Linked DNA regions of Homo sapiens. The protein of the gene in region 1 interacts with the protein of each later gene in a pairwise test. Each region holds a gene or a part of one and is shown on either strand. Other genes may lie near its edges.

Region 1 (4,035 bases):
CCACCTGAAGTCTACACACACACACACAGCATTCACCATGGAGTTGCATAGCTATGAGGAAATCTTTTACTTGAAACCAGACTAACCTGAAGCTGTATTAAAAAGTCACCTATGAGGTTTGATTTGAGGGGTATTAAGAAAGGTTTCTATCTCCTTTATTGTTACTGGTTCCTAATATGCTACTACTAGAACACAAAGTTCTTGTGTCAGTATATTTATAGCAATTGTGTTTGCATTTCTTAGACCTCAGAGATTTTTCTTTGAGGTATCTTTTTAGGGAACACCTCCTGTTAAAATGTAAGGAATTGCTATAAGGAAAAAAATCATAATACTATCTTTTTTTAGTGTGAATGAGTTTCTCAGATGTAAACTTTTCCTCGTTATCAAAGGAATCTCTGGTAGTTTGAGAGGGTTCTTTTGAGACCATGGGGGAGGAAATCTTTGTACATTAAGACTTAAAGCAGACAAGGTGCAGTGGCTCATGCCTGTCATTGCAGCACTTTGGGTGGCCGAGGTAGGAGGATCACTTGAGTCCAGGAGTTCTGACCAGCCTGGAAATATAGTGAGACCTTTTCTTTAGGAAAAATAAAAAATTAGCTGGGCATGGTGGTACATGCCTATAGTCCCAACTACTTGGGAGGCTGAGGTGGTGTAATTGCTTGAGCTCAGGAGATCGAGGCCACACTGAACTGAAATCACACCTCTGCACTCCACCCTGGGTGACAGAGTGAGACTGTGTGTCAAAAAAAAAAAAAAAAAAAAAAAGACTTAAAGCATATACACATACAGACACAGAAAAATACACATTGTCCACCCTCCTCACTCCGTTCTCACTAACCCCCACACCCCCGCCTTGCTGTTTACATGCGAAGTCTGTCATGGGTGAATACCAAAGTTGTGAAAACACAGCACACTTTTCAAGGTCACTTGCAGAGGCATCTAAGACCGTCTCTTTTCATGTTTCATTAAACCAGGAAAATAAAATTTTGTAAAATCACATATGGTTTCAAAGATTGAGAAAATGAATCTCTCTTGCATCCCTGGTATATGCCCAGGTTCACAAAGGAGGTCAGTGTAGCGTCCTTTACTTTTTACTGTCTTTTATTAAAACTTTTTTCCAGTGATGCCTTTATCATGACAAGGAAATAAACAGAAATATGTCATTTCCTCTTGTTATGATCAATACAACTATTTATGAAACACCTCCTGTTTCAGACACTATGTGAAGCACATTTATGCATATAATGCCTAACCTTCACAAAACTTCTGCAAAGTCAGCAGTGACAGTCCTGTTTTACAGATGATGAGACTTAGAGAAGTTCATTTTTTTTTTTGCTTGTTTGTTTGTTTGAGATGGAGTCTCACTCTGTCGCCCTGGTTGGAGTGCAGTGGTACAATCTTGGCTCAATGCAACCTTCGTCTCCCGGGTTCAAGCAATTCTCCTGCCTCAGCCTCCCAAGTAGCTGGGATTACAGGCATGTGCCACCACACCCAGCTAATTTTTGAATTTTTAGTAGAGGTGGGGTTTCTCCATGTTGGCCAGGCTGGTCTTGAACCCCAGACCTCAAACGATCTGCCCACCTGGGCCTCCCAAAGTGCTGGGATTACAGGCCTGAGCCACTGAAGCTGGCCATGAAACTTAGATAAGTTGAGTAATATATGCAAGGTTATACCACCAATAGATGCCCAGTTCTGTTGGATTTTACATTATTCTGCACTATCCAAAATACAACTTTTCCTCCAACAAATAACATGGCCAAACTGAAACATAACTCTTTTTCTTTCTAAACTGGTTTATGCACCTTCTTGGATTCCCCAGTCAGAGTTTTTCAGATATAATTGGGTCTCTTCTGGGCACCATGTTCACTGTGAACATAACATATATTAGTGTGATGGGGTGACCTTGGGGACTAGCAGCCAAAGGGTTCTTGCCACTAGAGTCAATGGCCCAGACTCTGTTAGACTTTGGGTTTCTCGTGTTTGCTGAATTGGTCTCCTTGTGATGACTTAAAATAATAATTTCAGTTTCTTTGCTTACATTTCTCGCTTGTAGGGTTTTGAATCTACCTCTCAGAAACCCTGTGTTAACTTTGTTAGTCAAATGATCATGAGAAAAGTATGTTAATATAAGTGGGGAAAGTTCTATCAATATCTCACGTCAAAAGTGTATTACTCCCTTAAATTGAAAACTTGGAAAAATATATTTTGCATTAAATTAGTTCCTCTTCTGACTACAGAAAGGGAAAAAGTTACTCCCACTTCCCCTAAAATCCCATCACTTCTCTTTCATCTTGCGCTGTCTTTGAAGATAAAGCCATAGACCGTCCAAAGCAATGCTGTCATGGCTGGTGCTGCCAGAGGTGCTTATCTGTGCTGCAGACCTGCTAAGCCCATGACCCTTGTGGGTTGACAGGTCACTCGTGCATCTGATCCCTGAAGGCTTGTGCTCCCTGCCTCCCCTTCTCCCGCCTTTCTGGTTAGTACTGAGCTAAGTGCTGCTTTTTCTTAGCAGTTCTTAGCCACACGGTGGTTTTGAAGGTTGTTCATTTCATTAAAAACATCATAGGCCACCCCTGCCATTCCTTGACCCCCTCTAGCTTATCACTTAGAAGTTCCTTCATTGTCATCTGGTCATTTTTCACTACGAATACACAGACCCCTGTGCTTAGTGTTTGGGGATCATCACTAAAATTGTTGTGTATTGTGCATCACAGAAACTTGTCTATTATTCTTTTTTTTTTTTTTTTTTTTTAAAGACAGAGTCTTGCTCTGTCTCCCAAGCTGCAGTGCAGTGGTGTGAGATTTCAACTCACTGCAACCTCTGTCTCCCTAGCTGCAGTGCAGTGGTGTGACATTTCAACTCACTGCAACCTCTGCCTCCCAGGTTCAAGCGATTCTCCTGCCTCAGCCTCCTGAGTGACTAGCTGGGATTATAAGCACCTGCTACCATGCCCAGCTAATTTTTGTATTTTCAGTAGAGACAGGGTTTCACCATGTTGGCCAGCCTGGTCTTGAACTCCTGACCTCAAGTGATCCACCCACCTCCGCCTCCCAAAGTGCTGGGATTACACGCATGACCCACCGTGCCCGACTTGTCTACTTGTTAGTAATCTGAAGGCTGAAGTAGAAGGGGCTGAAAAACTATCAGCATGTGAATTTAACTTAGTACTATATGAGAAGATCATTTCTGATTTCTGTAGTGGGAGAATGTGATACTTAGGGAGAGACGTATGGATCTACTCTGCTTGCTGGGGTAGCTAGAGGTCTACAGCCGCACCGTCCAGTGCAGTCACCACAAGCCACATGTGGCTCTTGAGCACAGGAAATGAGGCTAGTCTGGATTGAGGTGTGCTATACATGTAAACTACCGGATTTCAAAGACTTGGTAGAAGGAAAAGATAATGCCACATTAATAATTGTATATTCCTTATATATGGAACTGATGATATTTTGTATATCTTGGGTAAAGTAAAATACTTAATTTCACCTGTTCCTTTTGATTTTTTTTTTTTTTTGAGACAGAGTCTCTTGCTCTGTCTCCCAGGTTGGAGTACAGAGGCATGATCTCAGCTCACTGCAACCTCTGCCTCCTAAATTCTAGCGATTCTCCTTTCTCAGCCTCCCAAGTAGTTGGAGTTACAGGTGTGCGCCAGCACACCCAGCTAATTTTTGTATTATTAGTAGAGATGGGGTTTCACCATGTTGGCTAGGCTGGTCTCAAATTCCTGACCTTAGGTGATCCACCTGCCTCGGCCTTCCGAAGGGCTGGGATTACAGGTGTGAGCCAGGGCACCCGGCCTCCTTTTGATTTTTTTAATGTGGCTACTAGAAAAGTGATAGTTATGGATGTGGTACACATTTCTGCATGCTATAATGGTAGCACCAGCCAGCATTCAATACGCTTAACTGGGTATCAGACCCTGAGCATTGAGATTAAGTATATTGTCTCACTAAATAATCACAGCTAAGCCTGAAGTGTGTGTTGCTATTCACTTTTCACAGATGAGGAAAGTCAAGCTCAGGGACGTTCATTAA
Region 2 (2,785 bases), on another chromosome or scaffold:
GCAAGATGCCATCTTGAAAAAAAAAAAAAAAGAAAAAAAAAAAGAAAGAATGATGGGAGTGGTGTTGACGTATGTTAGCATTCCTTGTCTTGCCCCTTTAGCAAGTTTCCTATATCAATAGGAGAAACAAACAGCAGAATCAGTAGCTGAAATGATATGCAGTGTGATGAGGAGAGTTGTAGTTAGAGACCTTTTAAAAAAACAAAAAAAAAATTACAAAGTAGACAACAGCCAGATGCTTCTGGTCATATTCAATTAACACTGAAGGATTTCTAGAAAAACAGTCCTTGAGATACCTAAGGAAATCTGAGAGAAACTGCCTGAAGGAACAAAGAAAGAACTTGTGGTGCAGTAATACCAAGCCATTGTTCTTGAAAAAGAGCCAAATTTCTTCCCTGAGACCATAAAGTTGTGAACAGAATAGATACAGTTCTTTCCCAAGGAGAGAAGAAATGAGTCACATGTCTGCAACATATTGATGAGGCATTAGCGCTCCATCTTTCTCATAATTGCCACTGCCTGTAATAGGTTTCATATACCAACATACATATGTCTGTCTTATGAATGAGACAGAGGGATATCAGTACAGCTTATGCAGTTACAAGACTCAAAAATACTAAAACAAGACTGCAACAGAAATCACAAAATACCATAATCACTCAATCCATTATTTATATATTATAGCCCCTTCCTGTGTCTATCATATTACATTACACTAACCTAAGAGAAAGAACCAGTCCACAAAAAGGAACCAAAACAATTATGGAACATTTCCCTTTATGGAACTGAATAAACACAAGCTTATGTTCTTTGCTTTGTCTCATCTAATATAGTTTATCCTGTCACTATTTCTCATTTTCTGTCATTCAAAGGATCTCAGTTTTCAATACAAGTGAAATCTAAGCACAGTGGCTTTTTATTTGACAATGCATAAAGTGTGATATTTAGCTGAAGGTCAGTGCTCTCCCACCCACACCTGCTTTTACCTTCTCCCTCCCCATCATGGAGATGAGATCTCTCTTATCACTGTATCTTTTCCTTCCTTAGAAAACCTACAGAGATTTCCGATTGCAAGGGGTCCTGGACTCCACCTTAAACAGCAAGACCTATGAAACGATCCGGAACCGTCTCACTGTGGAGGAAGCCACAGCATCAGTGAGTGAAGGTGGGGGACTGCAGGGCATCAGCATGAAGGACAGCGATGAGGAAGACGAAGAAGACGATTAGACCATTTGGTCCTAGAGTCTGCTGGGACAGAGTCCTGTAATCAGTGCATGTCCTTAGTCTGTTAGTTAAACCCATTAGGAATTTTCTGTCAACTACCATGCCCATGAGATGTTTATCAATACAACTGCCATTTTAGCTATGTGGTACCAAGATTAGCAAATGACCTTCATATCCACTGATTTCCTGATGTCCATGTCTATATGTTTACAAGCAATATGGAGCACCATTCTTTAAATACTGTTCATGGAGAATACATAGTCTAACCACTAGGCGTGTCCCTGTTATCAGCAAAGATCAATGATGCTTCATTCATGTACTATGTATGCATTGGTGGTAAATGGATGTGAGGGCAAGTACATCAAGTACATTCACTCTGTTTCACGTATGTGGATGCCAGTTAATTAAATGAGTACGTAAATAAATTAATTAAAACACATAGATCTGCTTTGTGTTTTTATTTTTATTTTTTGAAAAACAAAAGGCAAGTCTCCAACAATTAACTTTTGATGCTTTCTGTTCCCCTAAAACCAAAAAATGAACCCCTTGTGTCGTTGTTAACCCATCCTTTCATTTACTCATATAATTAGCCAAAAAAAAAAGGATGGCTACATACCAATGGATTGATTCTCTTAATTGCCACGGCAAGGGGGCGATCCTATCATGACTTAACATCAAGCGCGCAGTTCAAAACTACTGTCTTCTGTCAAAGTTTTCTCCTCTTAAATGTTATTTTGCTTTTACGTCTCAACTGTGTATGTAAAAAAAATGAATATTTAAATTACAACCCTAGACTAAAAATGTGTTTATAATAAGATGTGGATATTTCCTTCAGTAGATTGTAACCATAATTTAAATTATTTTGTTCCACACTGTTTTTTATATCTGTCATGTACATTGCATTTTGATCTGTAACTGCACAACCCTGGGGTTTGCTGCAGAGCTATTTCTTTCCATGTAAAGTAGTGGATCCATCTTGCTTTTGCCTTATATAAAGCCTACAGTTATGGAAGTGTGGAAAACTGTGGCTTCTCAATAAATATTCAGATGTCCTAAGAATATACGTTTGGGTCTGTCTTCCTCTGTCTACTTTGAATGCCAGAACTGAAACACAACAAGAAGAAATAGGAAAGGGGAGGGAAGAGGTAATTTTTGTAGAGTGTTCTTGAAACTGTTGGAGTGGGTCGTTTTCAAATGCTCGTAGTTCTCCATGAGAGACTGCCTAAAATTCCGTTAATTCAGACTCCACTAATTCAGAACCCGTGGGCATTTGGACATGTTGGACAGATTACACTTGCATTATAGGATAAATAAGGGTTTGCTAAGCAAGTAAGTAGTGTAAACGAGAGAAATGTTTCTCCTGTACGAAGAGAAGGCCAACAAACTGTTTTTAAGCACCACTTTAACAGCAGTGTTTGCATTCAAACAAAGTGTGTGCCAATTATATATGATTCTTATATATTTGTTAAAGCATTTTAAAAGATTCCCTAAGATATGGAGTAGTCTACTTGCTCCTCAGGCCCTGTCAGCAATATAATCACCTAGGTTTGTAAGAAATTAA

What was found.
Region 2: the proteins of SH2D4A (region 1) and CADPS interact in a two-hybrid assay, tested with the Homo sapiens proteins (one large-scale study listed by BioGRID).

Annotation. Positions count from the first base shown.
Region 1 is NC_000008.11:19,319,882-19,323,916, forward strand, and holds part of SH2D4A (SH2 domain-containing protein 4A), read left to right. Parts: intron 1-4,035. UniProt on the Homo sapiens protein: Inhibits estrogen-induced cell proliferation by competing with PLCG for binding to ESR1, blocking the effect of estrogen on PLCG and repressing estrogen-induced proliferation. May play a role in T-cell development and function.
Region 2 is NC_000003.12:62,397,848-62,400,632, reverse strand, and holds the end of CADPS (calcium-dependent secretion activator 1), read left to right. Parts: intron 1-1,047; coding exon 1,048-1,227; 3' UTR 1,228-2,285; downstream 2,286-2,785.